Homo sapiens: one gene and its partner. The protein of the gene in region 1 binds, or shares a complex with, the protein of each later gene. Each region holds a gene or a part of one and is shown on either strand. Other genes may lie near its edges. The genes, in order: HLTF and S100A10. A codon is read from its position in the direction of its gene.

What was found.
Region 2: the proteins of HLTF (region 1) and S100A10 are in contact, whole or in part, in a crystal structure (PDB 4HRE), measured with the Homo sapiens proteins. Residues at the interface, in NP_001305864.1 of Homo sapiens: Thr32, Phe33, Phe34, Pro35, Phe37, Phe39; in NP_002957.1 of Homo sapiens: Phe42 (codon at 5,806), Asp58, Leu59, Asp60, Gln61, Gln70, Ser74, Leu75, Ala77, Gly78, Leu79, Ile81, Ala82, Tyr86.

What each region holds. Positions count from the first base shown.
Region 1 is NC_000003.12:149,082,388-149,092,820, reverse strand, and holds the start of HLTF (helicase-like transcription factor), read left to right. Parts: upstream 1-6,287; 5' UTR 6,288-6,484; coding exon 6,485-6,504; intron 6,505-7,931; coding exon 7,932-8,139; intron 8,140-10,433. UniProt on the Homo sapiens protein: Has both helicase and E3 ubiquitin ligase activities. Possesses intrinsic ATP-dependent nucleosome-remodeling activity; This activity may be required for transcriptional activation or repression of specific target promoters.
Region 2 is NC_000001.11:151,981,971-151,991,912, reverse strand, and holds the end of S100A10 (protein S100-A10), read left to right. Parts: intron 1-5,661; 5' UTR 5,662-5,682; coding exon 5,683-5,814; intron 5,815-8,588; coding exon 8,589-8,750; 3' UTR 8,751-8,998; downstream 8,999-9,942. UniProt on the Homo sapiens protein: Because S100A10 induces the dimerization of ANXA2/p36, it may function as a regulator of protein phosphorylation in that the ANXA2 monomer is the preferred target (in vitro) of tyrosine-specific kinase.

The DNA of each region.
Region 1 (10,433 bases):
CTTGTCAAAAAAAAAAAAAGGTAGTATTTCTTATATCAAAAGGGCATTTAGAGTTGAAGTTTTAATGTTCTAGCCATAAAGGAGGCAGAAAGCCTGGGCGTGTGGCTCATGCCTGTAATCCCAGCACTTTGGGAGGCCGAGGTAGGAGCGTAGGAGGATCACTTGAGCCCAGGAGTTCAAGACCAGCCTGGGCAACCTGTCTCTCCAAAAAAAAAACGAACAAACAAAATTAGCTGGGCATGGTGGTGTATGCCTGTAGGCCCAGCTACTTGGGAGACAGGTAGGAGGATCAATTGAGCCCAGAAGTTTGAGGCTGCAGTGAGCTTGTTTGTGCCACTGCACTCCAGCCTGGGCATCAGAGCAAGACCCTGTCTTAAAAGAGGAAAAAAAAAAAGGAGGCAGAAAAAATGTTTATTAATCCTTGCAGTTTTCATTAAAATAAAAAGATTACTTTGGTATGGCCATGACAGAAACCCTAAATCATTCCAGGGCCTAGAGTGGTACTTCCCTGAAGCTGGGGAAAGGACCCTGGGCAGAAAGCAAAGGAGGGGGCAGATCCCTGGCTGGCCTGATGCCTTGCAACCCTGGGCTTGAGCCACATAAGAGCATTTAGTGAGTCAAGGCCTAAAGGAGGAGGGAACAATTATCTCCTGGGAAAGGGCTATATAATCTGGAACACCACAGATTTCTCAGACGCGGAGTTGAGATTAGAGTGTCTCCTACCGCTTGATGAAACAATTCAGTCTACTTCAAGGACGTGCACCTGGAAAAATGACTGGCTTCTGGAAACAGTGTTATTCTGCTATTTAGGAACAACCCTGCTGATTGAGCCTCAATAAGGAAAATAGGCCTCAATCAACCATATTTCTTAAGTGCTAGAGGACTCGTTAGACAATAACTCTATTACAACAATAAGAGCACTTACTGAGTGCTTACTCCAGGGCAGCACTTCATATTCATTATATTATTTAATTAAGAAGATTTTTACTTGGCATTAATTTAATATCACTTTGGCCCTGTCAGCTGTGGTTTTACTCAGGATTTTGTCCAAAATCTAGAGAAACCTGATTATAAGAAAATTTAATAAGTCACAAAATATTATATTTTCTTTTCCACTGCATTGTCTTGGTTATTTAAAAAAATGGTTCAGAAATAGTATTGTACCAATGTTCATATCCTCATTTTGGTCATTGTACTATAGTTATGTACGGTATTAAAATAAGTGGCATAAAGGATATGAGGCAACAATTTGTACTAAATTTGTAATTTTCTGTAAGTCTACAATTAGATAAAAATAAAGCTGAATAATAGTTCATCATTTCTTTAATAAATTACTCATTTTATTTTATTATGGCAAAAAGAAATACATGTTTAATGTAGCAAATATTTTATATACATATAAGTAAAAAGAAGAAAATGAAAATTCCCTAATTTAACCAGCTAGAGGTATTTACTATAAATATCTAGGTATATCTTCATCAAGATGTGTGCATATGGACATATAGCATGTATGAATTTCAATCACTGACTATATTTGCAAATGTAAAACTTTATATTTCTTTATTGAACTTAATTTTTCTTAAACCTTCATTCTGCCTAATGGCAGGTAACCTAATTTAGTCACTTCTGAATAGTTCAGTCATTTTAAGATTTAAAGTCATTTAAATTCAGCTTTCAGATTTAGTTCCCTTCGTCTTACCCACCAGGGAGGTTATATTTGGACTCCATTCATCTAATGCAGTCACCCATTGCAGATGTAACTCATCTCACCTCACCGTTGGGGACCAGCATCCTGCTTTTGTTTGCTAGAACCATAATCCTGATGATGCCCTCCAGCCTTCACAGGGCTAGAGGCTCACAAGGCTACCCCGGGTCCCCTTAACAGAGCCACCTCAGTCACCTTTACTCCTTTATTGCCTTGGCACATTTCTAGTCTCTGAGGTTCTCTCTGAGATCTGCAGAATACTGAGGCCACTCTCTGGGAAATGTGGCATAGCTTCCTTTTCTTGTGTAATCTACAGAAACTTTGCTAGACTTTCTAGCATTCTCCCTTTGTGCAGATTGGCCCAGTGTGATGGTATTCTAGGTCTTCTCTCTAAGACCCACTTAAGGGATTTACTCTGCAAACCCTCCTGCCTGACATTCTTGAAAATTCTCCTCAATTGAACTTTTATCTCCTTTGGAGTGAAAGAAGCGAACAAACAAGCAAGCTCTTACATCATCCTACTTTCTTCAGTCTATGAGTTATGATATAAGCTTAAAAGTTTCTGTATTGAAGCCAGATTTCTAGATATTCAGATTCTTCTCTTAAAGCCCCTCCCTGCTGCCTGGTCCCTGCCCCCACACCAATGGCTTTAAAATTCTATTTTGCAAAGTGTAAAAAACATTTTTTTTTGAGAGGGAGTCTCGCTGTGTCACCCAGGCTGGAGTGCAGTGGAACGATCTCGGCTCGCTGCCATCTCCGCCTCTTGGGTTCAAGTGCTTCTCCTGCCTCAGCCTCCCAAGTAGCTGGGACTACAGGTATGGCACCATCACCCCCTGCTAATTTCTGTATTTGTAGTAGAGACAGGGTTTCACAATGTTGGCCAGGCTGGTCTTGAACTCCTGGCCTCAAGTGATCTGCCCACCTCGGCCTCCCAAAATACCAGGGTTACAGGCGTAAGCCACCACACCCAGCCTAGAAAAGGCCTAGAAAAAGTGGCTCACGCCTGTAATCCCAGCACTTTGGGAGGCCAAGGCGGGCAGATTGCTTGAGCTCAGGAGTTCGAGACCAGCCTGGCCAATGTGGCAAAACCCCCTGTCTACAAGAAATACAAAAATTAGCCTGGGGGTGGTGGTGCCATGCCTGTAATCGCAGCTACTTGGGGGCTGAGGCTGGAGAATCGCTTGAGCCCAGGAGGTCGAATCACGCCACTGCACTCCAGCCTGGGCTACTGGAGTGAGACCCTGTCTCAAGAAAAAAAAAAATTTTTTTTTTGAGACAATTGTGAACATTTGATTATGAACTAGTTATTAGAAGATACTAAGAAGTGATTTGTTATTAATTTTGCCAGGTCCATGGTTTTTAGAGAAATTAGTGAAGGCCATTATAGGCAGGGTGGGTTGGGAAGTGACCCGAGAAATGAAGCTACTGTGGGAGGAAGAGCCACATATGCCATTCTTGGATTTCAGGCTCACTGAATCAAACGGGAGTGACATGACATGATTAATTTGCATAAAGGTTCTGTGTGTGTGTGTGTGTGTGTGTGTGCACGGGCATGTGTGTGTGTGGCTAGGGGTGCAGATGAGAAGTGTGTTTGTGACTGGGAAGTGGCTGGCTGGAGAAATTTTGGATTCCTTTCCTTTCCATACCATTCCTACCTAAATTTATCAGTGAACATTTTGGTTCTCTTGGCTTCATCACCTTCCCTTTCCAAGCCACCACCATCTCTTATCTGAACACAATAATTTTCTATCAGTTGCTTCTATCCTTGTTTCCTGTAATTCTCCACAGAGCTGCCAGCATTTTTAAAAGCCTAAATCAAGTCGTTATCCTCCTGCTCGAAACATTCAATGGCTTTCCATTGCAGTTAAAACACAAATTTTACTGGAGACTCTTAAGTTCCTATGTAACCTGGCCCTTATCTTCCCCACCGTCCTTTTAGTGCCACTTTCCTTCTTACTCACCAGCCAAACCCCACAAGCCACCCTACAGTTCATTTTCCAGTTACAAGTGTTCATTTTTCATATCTACTTGTGATGCTGTTATCAGAATAAATCAAGAAAAAACCAAAAAAGTTAATTTTTCAGAAAACATTATTTAGTATAATAGTTTTGAAATTGTAATTGCTGTAACATTTTAATCAAACTAGTACAAATTGTACTTGATCTTTAAATATAAAACAAAGAATGATTAAGGGAAAGAATGTTTTACTCCTGGTTCTGGGATGTGAAATATTGATAACATAGAGAAAACATACTGTGGGAGGAAGAGCCACATATGCCATTCTTGGATTTCAGGCTCACTGAATCAAACAGGGGAGTGACATGACATGATTAATTTGCATAAAGGTTCTGTGTGTGTGTGTGTGTGTGTGTGTGTGTGCGCGCGCGCGGGCATGTGTGTGTGTGTGGCTGGGGGTGCAGATGAGAAGTGTGTTTGTGACTGGGAAGTGGCTGGATGGAGAAATTTTGGATTCCTTTCCTTTCCATACCATTCCTTTAAATAGCAAATTTTAGTTCATTCAAAGCACATTCTTTAACCATGGGACAGTCATTATTCATAGATCTTAAGTCTTTTTATTTTTTTGAGATGGAGTCTCGCTCTGTTGCTCAGGCTGGAGTGCAGTGGCTTGATCTCGGCTCACTGCAACCCATGTCTCCCTGGTTCAAGCGATTCTCCTGCCTCAGCCTCCCAAGTAGCTAGGACTACAGGTGCGTGCCACCACGTCTGCTTAATTTTTGTATTTTCTTAGTAGAGTCAGGCTTTCACCATGTTGGCCAGGCTGGTCTCGAACTCCTGACCTCAGGTGATCCACCCAACTCGGCCTCCCAAAGTGCTGGGATTATAGGTGTGAGCCATTGCGCCTGGCCAGTCTTAAGTCTGAAAGAGCTATGTTCTCATATTTGGAATTTTTTCTTTGTCTAGTGAGCATGACTTTCTTACTCTTACAAAACATCAATTTGAGCAATTTCTGGCATATTTTCCAAGAATTTATTTAAAATCTGGCATACTAAAAGCTGAACTGTATTGCCATTTGCCTCAACACACTTCAAGAAGAACATACAACAATTAAAATAATTTGAAATGCCATTGTCTTTATCTTCCTCATCAACTTTGGTCAAATGAAATAATACATTGTTTCAAATTCTATTGCTCATCCATGGTTCATGATTAGAGATCACTACAGTTTATTTACGATAATGAACAAATGTGTCTTGAAAAGCTGACTACCGGCCTGGCACGGTGGCTCATGCCTGTAATCCCAGCACTCTGGGAGGCCGAGGCGGGCGGATCACCTGAGGTCAGGAGTTCAAGACCAGCCTGGCCAATATGGTGAAACCCCGTCTCTACTAAAAATACAAAAATTAGCTGGGCGTGGTGGCGGGCTCCTGCAATCCCGGCTACTCCGGAGGCTGAGGCAGGAGAATCGCTTGAATCCGGGAGGCGGAGGTTGCAGTGAGCCAAGATCACCCCCATTGCACTCCAGCCTGGGGGACAGAGCAAGACTCCATCTCAATAAAAAAGAAAAAAAAACAAAAAAAAGAAAAAAGAAAAGCTGACCACCTAATATTATTGTGCTGACAGGCGTGTAACATGGACCTCTCTGTGACGCGCAAGTATTATCTGGCAGTTACATGGTGCCGCCTGTGCAGCTGGGCGCCACCACCAGCTTCCTGCCCTGTGCGATTAAAAGGCCAGCTTCGGGGACAGCAGCCTCCTCAACGCAAAGCGACCAGCCCTGCCAGGCGTCGGCTGCAGCTGGTCCAAGGTTGACGGTCCCAGGGCCGCATTCTCCTTCCGGTCACCTCAGACTCTGGAAAGAGAGCCATGGAGGGCCTCAGAGCGCCCCTCTGCAGTTCCTTGAGGAAAACAAGGGCCTCCCCCTCTTGGCTGGAGCAGCCAAGTGCCCACGGGGAAAATGGTCCCGTCCACCATTTCAGGCAAACGCCCCCATAGCTGTAATAAACATGTGATGGGTTTCCTGCACCAAGAAAGGAAAATTTTCCTTAAAAATAACAAAAAGAGGTGGGGAGGGGACTCTAAGTTCCATTTAAGATTTTCCAAACTCGTTGTGTCTCATGCATACGCTGAGGCTTAACATGAAAATTTGGAGCGAAAGTCCCCACGGTTCACCACAGGGAATGAAGTAAAGTATCTCGCCGGTAGCTCTAGGTCTCGTAAACCGTGGAGCTCCTTTAGTATAAGGCCCTATTATGTGCCACATTAGATGAGAAGAAAATAAGAGGAAGGATACGGTAGAGCCTTTAGAATGGGGTTCAGTCTTAGGACTCGTAGGATAAAGGAAGGTCGTTTCCCTCCGTTTGAGGCAGGGAATCAAACAAAACACCGGCACCGCAGGCACCGCAGTCGCACTCCTGGGGCCTCGTGGCTTTCCCGCGCGCCCGCCTTGGGGGCGGGGAAGAACCCGGATGGAACCACCCTTGCAGCCCGGACCCCCCGCCGTCTTTGAATGGCAGCGGGGCGGAGTTGCCCTCCCTTCTGTGCTCTGACTGGTTTGGCTCCGCACTCTCCTCTTCGTGATTGGGCTTTCCTAGTGCCAGTCACAGAGCGACGCTGGTCTCCCAGATTGTTGCAGAAGGAGACGGCGTCGACGTCTGACTGGACTCGCGGCGACTTACCTTTCAGTCGTGCGCTCCTGATCCGGCGCTCGGAATTTGTCCCCGGCTTCAGGGCTGCGGGGCCTGGAAGGAGGCGTATCGAGGCGGCTCGAAAACGATCCAGGGGAGCCGAGGCGCTCCTCTTGTCATCCCACTCAGCGCCATGTCCTGGATGTTCAAGAGGTGAAGGGGGCGGAGGGGGTGGGGCGCTCGGTCTAACGGCCTGGAGGCGTCCCCAAATGAACCTGACCTTCCCCGCGTTCCTCTGCGTTCCCTGGGCGATTTGTGCAGCTGTATTCGTTCTGTTGGTCGCATATGTGGCCGCCGGAGAAATAAATGCATTGTCTTCGCTGGCGAGTAGGGGCTCCTAGGGCGAGTCCCGTGTTAGGGACTTGGGAAATCTCTGTCACCGACTGTGGGGGGCCTGGGGCTTAAAGCATCTCGGCCAGTGCTTTATTTAACAAAACATCCATTAGATACCCACTGTGCGCCAGGCATTGTGCTCGGTGGAGGGCCGAGTAAGACAGTCCTTGTCCCCAAGTGGCTCACAGCTTATCTGTATGCACAGACGTGCAGATAAGTATTTGCAGAGGCGCTAGTAGAGATATGCGCCACTTGCAAGGAAAACGCATCGCAAATAAGCGACTGTTCTTAGGAGAATGGAAACTTTTTGCAATGCTCCAGTAGACTCCCCTTCACTTTTCATTGTCCAAATTGGTATTTATGGTCATTCCCGAAACAGTTACACCTAATGGGTTTGGGGTTATGCTTAAACCGGCGACGGAAGGCGGGTACGGGTGGCTTGGGGCCAATTTCCCACGGTGGCGTGGTTTGGATACCAGAATAGGTGTTCTGCTCGCAGGGAGTTACAGTGATGGATGCTGGATGTATTTTCTGGAAAATTATAAACAACTTCTGGTACATTAATAGTTGTATTTTTATAAGTCTTTTATATAGCTCAATCCCTATTGAAATTTTGGCATATGATTTCATTTTTTAAATTATTTTTTTGACATGGAGTCTCGCTCTGTCGTCCAGGCTGGAGTGCAGTGGCACAATCTCGGCTCGCTGCAACCTACGCCTCCCGGGTTCAAGTGATTCTCCTGCCTCAGCCTCCCGAGTAGCTGGGATTACATATGGGCGCCACCACGCCTGGCTAATTTTTGTATTTGTAGTAGACAGGGTTTCACAATGTTGGCCAGGTTGGTCTCAAATTCCTGACCTCAGGTGATCCACCTGCCTCTGCCTCCCAAAGTGCTGGGATTCCAGGCGTGAGCCACCGCATCCGGCCCATAATTGTAGTTACAGACATCATATACATATCAATTTAGATGATTTTCACTGGGAAAGAGGTTAGTGAACTCTGACTAGGCTTTTCATTTTGAATACCTAGGGGGCAGGTAGAAGAGCCAATATTGAAAACAGGTAGAGTTCCTAGAAGCCTTCTCCACTCACTGCAATTCCTGCTTTAACGAGAGTAACTATTAATCTTTACCGTGATTCCCATGTAAGATTTCATTTGCTGAAGTAAAGCATGAGAAAACTACTCATATGGTCTTTGGAAATACTTAAATATTATATTGTTTTTCTTTGCCTTTAAAAAAAAATAGGGATCCAGTTTGGAAGTACTTGCAGACTGTCCAGTATGGAGTTCATGGAAATTTTCCACGCCTCTCATATCCAACTTTCTTTCCACGTTTTGAATTCCAAGATGTTATCCCTCCAGATGACTTTCTAACTAGTGATGAAGAAGTAGATTCCGTTTTATTTGGAAGTTTGAGAGGTCATGTGGTTGGACTACGCTATTACACGGGAGTAGTGAGTATAATAGTAGATAATTAAATTTTGATTATATTTCTGGCGTTAACCTAGAAAATAAGAGAATTCGCAGGTGATGTGTGCGGTTAATCTTTATTTTACTTTAAGTTAGTTAAATATTTGTACGCAAAAAATAACAAATACCTTAAGTGACCCTCCCACCTCAGCCTCCCAGAGTGTTGGGATTACAGGAATGAGCCAATATGCTTGGCCTCAGTGCGTTATGTTTGGTTATTATGGGTAGCACCCCACCCCCACACCCCAGCGCCTTGTTCATGTCATCGATTTGTTGCAAAAAGGAGATCGTTTTGTGGAATCTTCTGGATTTTATTCTTTCATTTCTCCGTATGTTTCTTATGTTTAAGCTTCTCAATAGGGTGTCTGAAGCATGTTCGACAGGAGATTCCTTAGGAGTTTCATGTTCTGGATTTGTTTTTCTCCTGTATTTCCTTTACATTGGAACGTTTCAAATTGTTTTTTGATTGTCTGAAATGTGTTGTCTAGGAGATTCCTTAGGAAGAGACAATATTTCCTAAGTTTTTATATTTTCATACTTGTGGCATTTTATGAATGACAGTTTCATAAAATGAAAGTTATGAAGGACTTAATGACAGTTGGGCTGAATTTAAAATCTTTGTAATATATCTTTGTAATAAAATCTTTGTAATAAAATCTCCATATCCTAATGTTGCATAGAATTCTCAGGCCAGTGTGATTTTCTTTCACTTAAGTGAATTGGATTTTTTTTTTTTTCTTTTTTTTTGAGACCAAGTTTCGTTTTGTTGCCCAGGCTGGAGTGCAGTGGCCTGATCTGGCCTCACTGCAATCTCTGCCTCCCAGACTCAAGCAATTCTCCCAATTCAGCCTCCTGAGTAGCTGGGACTGCTGGCGTTCACCACCATACCCAGCTAATTTTTGTATTTTTTTTTTTTGTATTTTTTTTTAGGTTTTGGCATGTTGTCCAGGCTGATCTGGAACTCCTGGGCTCAAGTGATCCGTCCGCCTTGGCCTCTCCAAGTGCTGGGATGCTGCACCCGGCCTCTAATTTTTTCTAATAGATTCTTGAACTCTATCAGTTCTTATTTCACATCTATATATTCTCTGGCTCTCATATGCATTTCTGAGCTTTTCTGTTTCAGATTTGTGCTAATTTTTCAAAACTTACATTGCTTTCGATAATTATTTTATACCACCATGAAATACTAGATTATGGTAGTTATTGATCTTAGAACAATCAGTATTTTTGATCTGAGAATAATCTCTATGACTTCGGTAAACTCTAGTGTGTGTTGATAAAAAGTAATCATCAGTTTTCTTATTTTGCCAAATATATATACTTTAAATTTTATTTTTTTCCAGGAACACTATGTTGAGATATCATTTATTTTATAATTAATGCATGTTCTTTTATTTGTTTTTGTTTTTTTTTTGAAACGGAGTCTTGCTTGCATTGCCCAGGCTGGAGTGCAATGGTGCAATCTTGGCTCACTGCAACCTCCGCCTCCCAGGTTCAAGCGGTTCTCCTGCAACAGCCTCCTAAGTAGCTGGGATTACAGGCATGCGCCATCATGCCCAGCTAATTTTTTGTATTTAGGAGAGATGAGGTTTTGCCATGTTGGTCAGGCTGGTCTTGAACCCCTGACCTCAGGTGATCCACTCACCTCGGCCTTCCAAAGTGCTGGGATTACAGGCATGAGCCACCGCGCCCAGCCACGTTCATTATTTTTAAATGGCTAAAAAGGCATTAAATCTTCTGAAGTCTATCATCCAGAACCATAACTTATCTTCTACACTTGTTTCTGTGAGCATGTGCATGTAAATTGGAATCATATTATGTATTAATAAAAATGAGATCATATTATGCCTAATGTGATTAGGAATATCATCTATATTGGACTTATAATTTCCTTGTTGATGGACATTTTTGAGTTAATCACTATTATAAAAATAATAAAAATTGAGATACTATCTTTGCATACTTGTTATTTTAATTTTTTTTCTACTTTATTGAGATGTGGTTTACGTATGATAAAATGTACATATTTTAAATGTATGATCCTAGTGTTTTGACAAAGATGTATACCTGATAACTACTACCCCAATCAAGATACAGATTGTATCCGTCTCCCTCAAAGTATCTTGTATCCTATTGCATTCATTTTTCCCTGTTCCTGCCCTAGGCAGCCACGAGTCTCATTTCTTTTCTTTTTTTTTGTTTTTTTTGAGACGGAGTCTCGCTCTGTTTCTCAGGCTGGAGCGCAGTGGCGGGATCTCGGCTCATTGCAAGCTCCGCC
Region 2 (9,942 bases), on another chromosome or scaffold:
CACATCATATAGGCCCCTTTCCTCCCGTGTGCTGGCCAGCCTCCTAAGCAGCCACTCCAGTGAGGTCAGGGTGGAGCTGAGACTGTGTGCCTCCCTGCTTTCTACTGACAGTTCAAAAAATGTGACTTTTGTAGAGCACAACCCACTTGGTATACCCTTGGACACAGTCCAGTCTTTTAAAGCGTAAAGTTGAGAGAAACAATGGAATTCTTTCAGGATTATAATGTATAAATTAGCACTCAAAGTGCTGAGAAAGCTGGACTAAAATTTTAACATCTTAAGTTTCTCATTTTTCTGGGGACTCAACAAATTTAGGAATCCACATCAAAAGCAAAAAGAAAGAATGTACTTCTTTTAAACAATTTTCAGCACTTTCTATCCCTTTACTAAATAAATACCACCCATCCTACCAAAGGATTTAACTAAAAGCAGTTTTGACAGTAGCTATGTTGGCTGATTAGGCTGATGCCTAAGCATTCTTTAAGGAAAAATTGATGTAGTTGGTTAGATTGAAGGAGGTTTCTTCCAAGTTCTTTCTTCCTATTGAATTGCATCTGAAACGTTCCTTTGCTGCCCAGTTCTTTAGTGGGCAAGTTTTAGTTGGTGAGAGGTGAGAGAGACAGCCTGGATCCAGATCCATTGCTTCAACTCATTTTTTCTGAATTCCCTTCAGAGATCAAATTTAAGAATGCCTTCTGGGTTCAATTTTAAAAACTCCAAAATTTCTAAAGCAAAAGGAAGGAAACCTCAAACATATTTTAAATAACAGATGTTTGTTTTTACTGACACCCTGCCGTTTATTTTCTGGGTGGGCTGTAAGAAAACTAGGGTATGGACAAGACACAGAGGAGCAAAGCAAGTCCGACTCACTCTGCAGAAGTGTCCTCTTTGAAACTGCAGCCGGGATCTGGGCATAGGTCCAAAGCAAACATTTGAGATTTTTCAGGAGCAGACACTTTTCTGAGGAGGACTCCTGCTTGTCTGCTACTCGCAGGACAACCAAAATACATCATTATCAATTTCTTAACAATTCATCGAGCAGGCTCTATGAGGGCTGGGGCACTGGCTATTGGGACCCTGCTCAAAAAACCTGCAACCTAGTGAGGAAAGAAACAGAAACACAAATAACTAGAATTCAGGCCAAATGCTTTAATAGTATTCCATTAGCTGGTGAACTCCTCAAAGGCAAGCACCATGGAGAGCTTTGTGTGTGTGTGCATGTGTGTATGTGTGTGTGAACACCCTCATGCCTAACACCATGTCTGGGACATTCAAAGTAGGTGCTCAGGGAGGGAGAACCAAAAATGGAAAATTGAATTCCTCCTAAGGTAACTAAATTTGTGGAGTCCAGAATTGTTTTCCATAGAGAAAACTATGCAGAGAAAGATGTCTCCGCCTCCCTTCTTAAGACCTGTTGCTCAGACAAACATGTAGAGGGCATGTATAGGCATCAGATTAGAATACTTCAATAAAAGGTGAGTGGACAGCAAGGCTGTTATTATCCTGTGGAGCTCAGCAGTGAGATAGCAGCACTAGAAAAGCAAAAAGTAGAAGATGGGATGAATGAAACACGAGAAAATAGCAAGTGTTAGAAGAGAAGGAGCACAGTCATGTCATTCTGACTAGACCTGTTTAGCAGGACACATATTTTTCCTTTTGCGTATGGAATGTGCACTCCTGTGTACTCTATCTACTGTTCCGTTCATAGTTGAACACTTTTGGGGCCCCTTTCCTGGCCCTTCCCAGCTCTCACATCGTCCTCCTGAGCTCTGAGCTACAAGGCTTTCAGCCTAGTCCTGGGTAATCACACCTGCACCTCAGCTACTGCCCAAGGGATTGTGTGGTTCATTTATGCACATAACAGTTATATAGTGCTCCATGAATAAAAGCAGAATAATTTGTAGTTCTTAATCAAGAGAAGCTTAAATCTCAGGCAGACAAGTAAACAATTAAATGAAATTGAATGTTTCAGGTGCAAGAGTACGTTATTGGGGATAGAGAGGACACTGCAGCCCCTCAGCCCCAGCCCCAAGGCCCTCCTGTCAAAATGTGTCTAACCAGGATGCAGGAAGCCCACATCTGTCCAGGAATAGAGCTTGCAGAGTGGCTACGTGAGGGTGGAAATGCCAGATTGAAGTCCCTGAAGAACTTCAGTTTTGGCAGCTAGCAGTGCTGCAGACAGCCCTGCCCAGGCAAGCCCCACCCAAGAACGGAGGGCCAGGCAGGGCTGACTCAGTTGGGCAACCATTGGCTGCACTCAGACAAGAGTTACATGATTCATCCTCTAGCCAAGAGAACAGAGTTTTAATCACAACATTTCCCCCTTTCCTTTGTCTTATTTTAAAGCCAGTGTGCAACTCCTTCCCCAAAACAGAGTTCCTTGCTGTGGCCCTGGTCAGTGCCCTTTGGGGTACTGGTTGCTGAGGAGACAAGGGCTTCTCCACTGATTTTCAATGCTATTTTCACCTCCTGGCTACTCCCTCCTCTGCATCCTTATTGCAGAAGGCCTACTGGACACACAGGGAGTCAGCTGGCTGCAATATTCACAATCCATCCACTGAATAAAACCGCTGGGGGAGGAGGGGAGGGGAAGACCAAGTGGGAGAAGGATGTAACTTCAGAGAAGGAAGCTCCGTCACTTCGTAATGGCTGTGGGCAAGAGAGGCATGCGACTGAGTGACTTCAGACCTAAGCACTCACACAGTGTGAGGTAGACTCACCTTGCTCTCCTGAAGAAGATACTCAAGGGTGGCCAGGATTTCCTCAGCTGACAACTTGTATTTCTTAGAACCTCCTAAAATTAGCCTTTTTAAAATTTAGAGGTCCTTACCCTGCTGCATTCCCTTTCTTAATTCTGCACTTTCCTTCTGTCCTGTCATCTGAAAAAAGTAAACTAGGTACCCCACCCAGTTCCAATTTCTGGGATCTTTGGGAATTGATCCTGAAGTGCTCTGCTGCTCTGAACTTGAGCACAGGTATTTTTAAACCTCTGTGGTGTCTGACTCCTTTCCTGAGTTATTTAAGAACTGGGGTGGGATCCCACGTCCTTCTCCCAGAGGTGACTCGCCCAGTTCAGTTCTCTTAAATTGCTGGACTTGGAGTACCAGTCCAGGCAAGGCAGACTCTCTGTAAGCCCACTGCCATCTGAAACCCATATGAGGGATGGGGGATGAGCCAGATCTGAGCTGTGTCAGAAGAGAAGGAAAAGGGTGTGGTTCCCCTGGAATTCATCTCACAGCAGACCTTGAAGCATTAATTTGCAGCTCTCTCCAAGATAACTAACTGCCTTTCAGATGACTCATGCCAGATTCTGATTTATAGCATTCTTTGGCCTGCTGGTTCCCATACTTTTCTGGAGATTAAGGGGTAGAATTTACAATTCTTAAGTGTTAATTGCTCAATCCTCATGTTTACCCACTCCACCTTCTCCTCTGTAAAAGATAGCATTTGAGAATCAGTGTTGAACAGGCATCTCTCAGAGATAGGAACCAGACCAAAGCATGTCTCAGGTTCCCATTAGAGCTCTTCAGCAGAGGAATTTGCCAGCCCTTCAATCTAAGCTCAAAGCCTATTCTTGTGATTATTTATTTTTATTTTTTAGTGCTATATTACAGTCTCCATTCACGTTCACCTGTTTCCTATCCAGTAGTGATTTTAGGTGATATTAGCCAAAGCTTATCTGTTCTCGCCAAATGATTCCTTCCAATTAAGCCAAAATTCACTGAGGTTCTATTAAGTACCACGTACTGGGTCTTGTGAGACATATACCCCTAGTTCATTATACCCAAATGTAATGATCTGACATGTTTCCTTTCCTTTCTTATAAACGCTTCATGATGAAAGCTCTTGCTTTCCCACTGTACCCCAGACTGTGAGAGCAGCTCATCTGTCTAATGTCACTAAAAACATAGGAGGCCCTCAAATGAGTTAGGTTATAGTATTACTTGTTGCTTCTCAAGTGAACTAGACAATGGACTTTGAGTAGTTTTCTGTTTGGGTAGAGCAACTGTATTTTACTGCCAGAGATGCAACTGTCTTTATTGCAGTAAATAACAAGTTCAGAGCTTTAGTAAAGAATACATATAGGCCGGGCATAGTGGCTCACGCCTGTAATCCCAGCACTTTGGGAGGCCGAGGTGGGCGGATCACGAGGTCAGGAGATCGAGACCACGGTGAAACCCCATCTCTACTAAAAATACAAAAAAATTAGTCGGGCGCGGTGGCGGGCACCTGTAGTCCCAGCTACTCGGGAGGCTGAGGCAGGAGAATGCCGTGAATCCAGGAAGCGGAGCTTGCAGCGAGCCGAGATGGCGCCACTGCACTCCAGCCTGGGCAACAGAGCAAGACTCCGTCTCAAAAAAAAAAAAAAAAAAAGAATACATATATACCCAGCAGATAAATTCATTTGTAAGCAGATTTCTAAACCCTAGAATCACACTGAACCAAGTTACCACTTTAAGCTTAGAAGGGTGAAGTTTTCGTATTTACCAGACTTGACTGTGTGGATTGTTAGTATCAGCCATATCTAAGAATCCCATTTACTAGTGCCAAGAGAAATTATGAACTATCTGTTCTTTCAGTAGGTGCTTTGTCAGTTAAAAAGAGGAACACTGGGCCGGGCGCAGTGGCCTGTAATCCCAGCACTTTGGGAGGCCGAGGTGGGCGGATCACCTGAAGTCAGGAGTTTGAGACCAGCCTGCTCAACATGGCAAAACTCCGCCTCTACTAAAAATACAAAAAATTAGCCGGACATGGTGGCGGACGCCTGTAATCCCAGCTACCTGGGAGGCGGAGGTTGCAGTGAGCCAAGATCACAACACTGCACTCCAGCCTGGGCAACAAGAGCAAAGCTCCGTCTCAAAAAAAAAAAAAAAAAAAAAAAAAAGAGGAACACTGATGTTGCTTTTCTAAATTATTAGTTTCTATTCTTCATTAGATTATTCATGCAAATTAGCTGGAGTTAGCTAAACCCCTTTATTTACAGCACCAGTATCTGAGGTGTCTATTTCTACCAACAAGGGACCCAAACTGGGGTGGACTGGTTCTTAGATTCATTCACTGAATTTTAAAGCTGGAGAAGATCAGATGGATGATCTAATCTCCATCTTTCCAATTATCCTAAAAAGGCTGGCAATACATATGGCTTAAAAGTTAATGTAAATCTACAAAGATGAACCTGGAGGACGTTACGCTTAGTGAAATAAGCCAAGCACAGAAAGACAATTACCAGATGATCTCACTCATGTGGAATCTTAAACACTGAATTTCATAGAACTAAAGAATAGAATGGGCTGGGGTGATTGCATTTGAGTGATGTTGAGGAGCTATTGGTCAAAAGATTGAAAATTTCAGTTAGGAGGAATAAGTTTAAGAGATCTACTGTACAACAACGTGACTATAGTTAATTACAATGTATTGTATTCTTGACAAATAGTTAAGAGTGGCTAAGTGTTCTCACCACAGAAGTGCTAACTATGGGAGGTAATGCATATGTTAATTAGCTAGATTCAGTCATCCCACAATGTATATATACCTGAAAACATCATGTTGTACACATTAAATACATACAATTTTATCTTTCAATTTAAAAAAAATAAATTCATGCATAAAGTCTGCCAAAAAAAGTTAATGTAGACCCTGTTACTTTACATCCTTTAATAGGCTTCAACGGACCACACCAAAATGCCATCTCAAATGGAACACGCCATGGAAACCATGATGTTTACATTTCACAAATTCGCTGGGGATAAAGGCTACTTAACAAAGGAGGACCTGAGAGTACTCATGGAAAAGGAGTTCCCTGGATTTTTGGAAGTAAGTGTTGAAAAGCTTACAAAGAACCAGACATAAAAGTCAATGCTTCTAGGCCTTGGTTCCTTTTCCTTCTTGTTTCCATCCCTTCCCTGTGGAGGTCACCACTAGTGAATAAATGAATGTAGTCACCTGAAGGAATGAATGAATGACCTCATTCATTCATTTATTAAATAGTATTGAGTACCTGCTATTTGTAAGATACTGTTGAGGAAACAAAGTAATGAAGACACAGCCCCAACCTTCAAGGAGCTTACAGTCTGCAGGTGAAATAAGACTGCATACAAATAACCACAATATGAGCTGTTTGTTGGAAAATTCCATCGGGTTATCTGTGTCTGTTGTGACGATGTTGGGGACAGAGTTGGGAGAAAGAAAGCTTTTCACAAAAGAGTAGTCAACCAGAAAATGGCTACCTTCAGGTCCAAAAACCTGGTGGTGGAGATGCCACATCCTGGTCACATTCCATTTTGAGCAACTCGAATCTCCCTTCTTAAATCTCTTCAGATAAAGGGATTGTTTTTTCTTTTTCTAATACTACAAAGGAGCAGTGTCAGTCATCTACTGAATAAAAGCCACATATCACTCCAGAAATAACTGCTTTTCACATAATAATGCTCTGACAGCACAGGAGCAGTTTGAATTTATGTCTCACCTTTGACAGACTGAGAGATGCATGAAGACCTATAAGAGGACTCTGCCATCAGCTCAGATACATCACTCAGGACATGGGGCCACAAGGCACAGTTGTCCTTTTATATTCCAGGTTCTCGAGAGGTGGCTGTTGAATTCAACTGAAGGTGCAACATTGCATGACAAAATAGTAGACTGAAATGCAAGCCCTTCTTTCCCTACCACAATTGTAGTCACCTGAAAAGATTGTTTCTGTGCTTGGTGTTGAATAATGCATTAACCTGTAAAGGGTGAGAGGAGATACGGTAAAACGTTGGGTCCTGCCTCTTGTCATCTGACTGGTAAACGGCACATTAGTCCAGCCCCTGACTCCTGCAATCAATAAACATGAGGCTTTTTAGTATACTATAATTCGTATGTCATCAATATCAGTTAAATAAACAGATATAAATAGCCTAACTGCTCTCTCAGAGCTGCAGTTATTACCTAATGCTATCCCAGAATGAGTTAGAATATGCAGGTCCTCTGCTTTTGTAGAGTCCTGTGATATAGCCCCAGACCAGGAGTTAGAAGATCTGGCTCTGCCTTAACTAACAATGGGCAGGTTGCTTCAGCTCTCTAGTCTTCAGTTTCCTCCCCTGTAAAATTAGAGAGGGCTGGACATAATTATCTGCAAGGTCACTTTCACTTTCTATGATCATTCAAGACAAGCATTAAGATGCAAGGACAAAATGTGCTCATTGTAAGCCTGCCTGTCCTATAGACAAAGGCATTCTCAGTACACTAAACACTTGTTAAGAGTGTTGTTAAGAGCCAGAGTGAGTATCATGTAAGACACAGACCCTTTCTTCCTAAAGGCTTTGTGGCATCAGACACATAAAGGGTATATGTAGTGTGGAGCACTAACCATGGCAGGGTAATTTATTCCAGGCACAGAGTCATAATTCTGGAAACATCTAGACTCACTGCATTAACAGAGCATTTTGTTTCTAAAGTAGACCTCTTATGTCATCCAGATTTCACTCATTCTGACCACAGCCAGGAAGCTGAGGGTGAAGCCAGAATTAGCTGAAACCCACCAAGAGCTGCATAGAGCACGTTTAGCTAGAGTAGGAGTTTGCAGTGCTCATGTGGGAAATGCTGCTGCTATACTTTTAGGAATTTCTGAGTGCAATTTAGAAACATCTAGCACACTTGAAACACTGCGTATCATTTTCCTCACTCATGAATATAGTCATCAGAATTCATAAATAGTTTACCTGAGCCCTTTAACAACCTCAAATAGGCCATATTTCTCTCTCTGGTTGATGGCATGGACCCTACAGGAAAAACCACACCTTACCGCTTCTGACCAGCATCACTACAAAAAGGAGTGCTGAAGCCAATCACCATGTAAGCAAGATAAAAGCAAAGGGGGTCTTGCCTGCCCATCTCTGTTCCATACATTCTTACCAGGCACTGAGAGTCATGGGGAGTTTAAGACTCCATCCCACATACTCCTTTTGAAACTGGTCCAGTGTACAACATCCAGTGAAGAGTATAGGATGGCATAGACTTACCAACTCAAAGAATGAAAGGATTCTAGAAACATTATAGTCCAACCTCCTCAATTCATCGTTGATACACAAAGGCCCACTAAGCTGTGTGGTTCACTCAGCATCACGTGGCTAATATGATATGAAGCCACACTAGCTTGTCCTCAGCTGTGCCAAGAATGAGAGCTGCCTTCTCCAAACCTAAAACCAACCCATGGCATCATTAACACCTCTTTAAAATCCATAGGACAGTGATCCAAAACTTATTCCCTAAATCATAAATATCTTTTCATAAGGAGTTTCCTTTGTAAGGGATTTGACCATGCCATTAGGAATAAAATTTTAATAAGAGAATGTAAGTTTAAACCATAAAATGAGGAGCTTAGGGTGGTTCTTAGGCAGAATCTAAATATGAAATTACTGAAATGCTCCCACAAGGCAAAAAAAAAAAAAAATACATTTAGATGAACTCCAAAGGTTGCTTATGACCTAAAACAAGAGCTCAAGTAATTGGGAGATATATACACAGTTCTCAGCAGTACAAATCAAATAAGCTCCTCATTGCAACCTTTGACTTCTATTTCTTGCCTTTGTTCTTTTTTTTTTCAGAATCAAAAAGACCCTCTGGCTGTGGACAAAATAATGAAGGACCTGGACCAGTGTAGAGATGGCAAAGTGGGCTTCCAGAGCTTCTTTTCCCTAATTGCGGGCCTCACCATTGCATGCAATGACTATTTTGTAGTACACATGAAGCAGAAGGGAAAGAAGTAGGCAGAAATGAGCAGTTCGCTCCTCCCTGATAAGAGTTGTCCCAAAGGGTCGCTTAAGGAATCTGCCCCACAGCTTCCCCCATAGAAGGATTTCATGAGCAGATCAGGACACTTAGCAAATGTAAAAATAAAATCTAACTCTCATTTGACAAGCAGAGAAAGAAAAGTTAAATACCAGATAAGCTTTTGATTTTTGTATTGTTTGCATCCCCTTGCCCTCAATAAATAAAGTTCTTTTTTAGTTCCAAATTTGAGACAGAATGTTTGTTGTTCCCTCAGAAATTCTTGTTCCCCAAGAGGCAGCTTGCCCTTGGGCAGCCAGCACACAGCAGAGCTTTTCTTACACAGCAGAGCTTTTCTCACAGAACTGGCAAAATGAGAAAACACTCTTCATTCAGGCTTGGAGTCTGACTTCTCTAATTGTTCTGCCCTTGTAGCTGTGTCTATATGAAGGACTCAAACTTGAAGGATTAGGAGAAGGCTCTACAGGAATAGATGGTAAGTTTATAATTACTGGGCACAGTTTTGCCCAGTTAAATCAGTGCTTTTCTAGCCAGCACTTTGCATGCCTGCAATGTCTGAATCCAATTTTCATAGCAAAGTGTCAGCAAACCTAAGGCAGAACTAGGAGAACCAATCAGGAGAGGGTGTAGCTTGACACCTTGGTAATAACATCACATTAGCATCTATTAAGTCAACTCCCAGATGTCAGGAAATATGGTAGGCATGACTTATACACGGGGCAGTACACTTTTGTTGAAAATGAAGTGTCAGTACTGATGTCTTGATAATCAATGCAAAATGTTCCTCCTAGCCCTTTTTTGTGCCTGTTAGAAGCTTCAGGGTATATGTGCATCAATGCTATATGCTTATTAATAACACAGTACTCTATGCTTTTATGGAGAGGTGATATATGAATTCCATGAATTGGCACATAGCATTGTTCCAAGTAAATAGGTCAAAGAAGATGGAATATTTACTTTTTTTTTTTTTTTTTGAGACGGAGGCTTGCTCTGTCACCCAGGCTGGAGTGCAGTGGTGCAATCTCGGCTCACTGCAAACTCCACCTTCCCAGGTTCACACCATTCTCCTGCCTCAGCTTCCCGAGTAGCTGGAACTACAGGCGCCTGCCACCATGCCCAGCTAATTTTTTGTATTTTTAGTAGAGACGGGGCCTCACCGTGTTAGCCAGA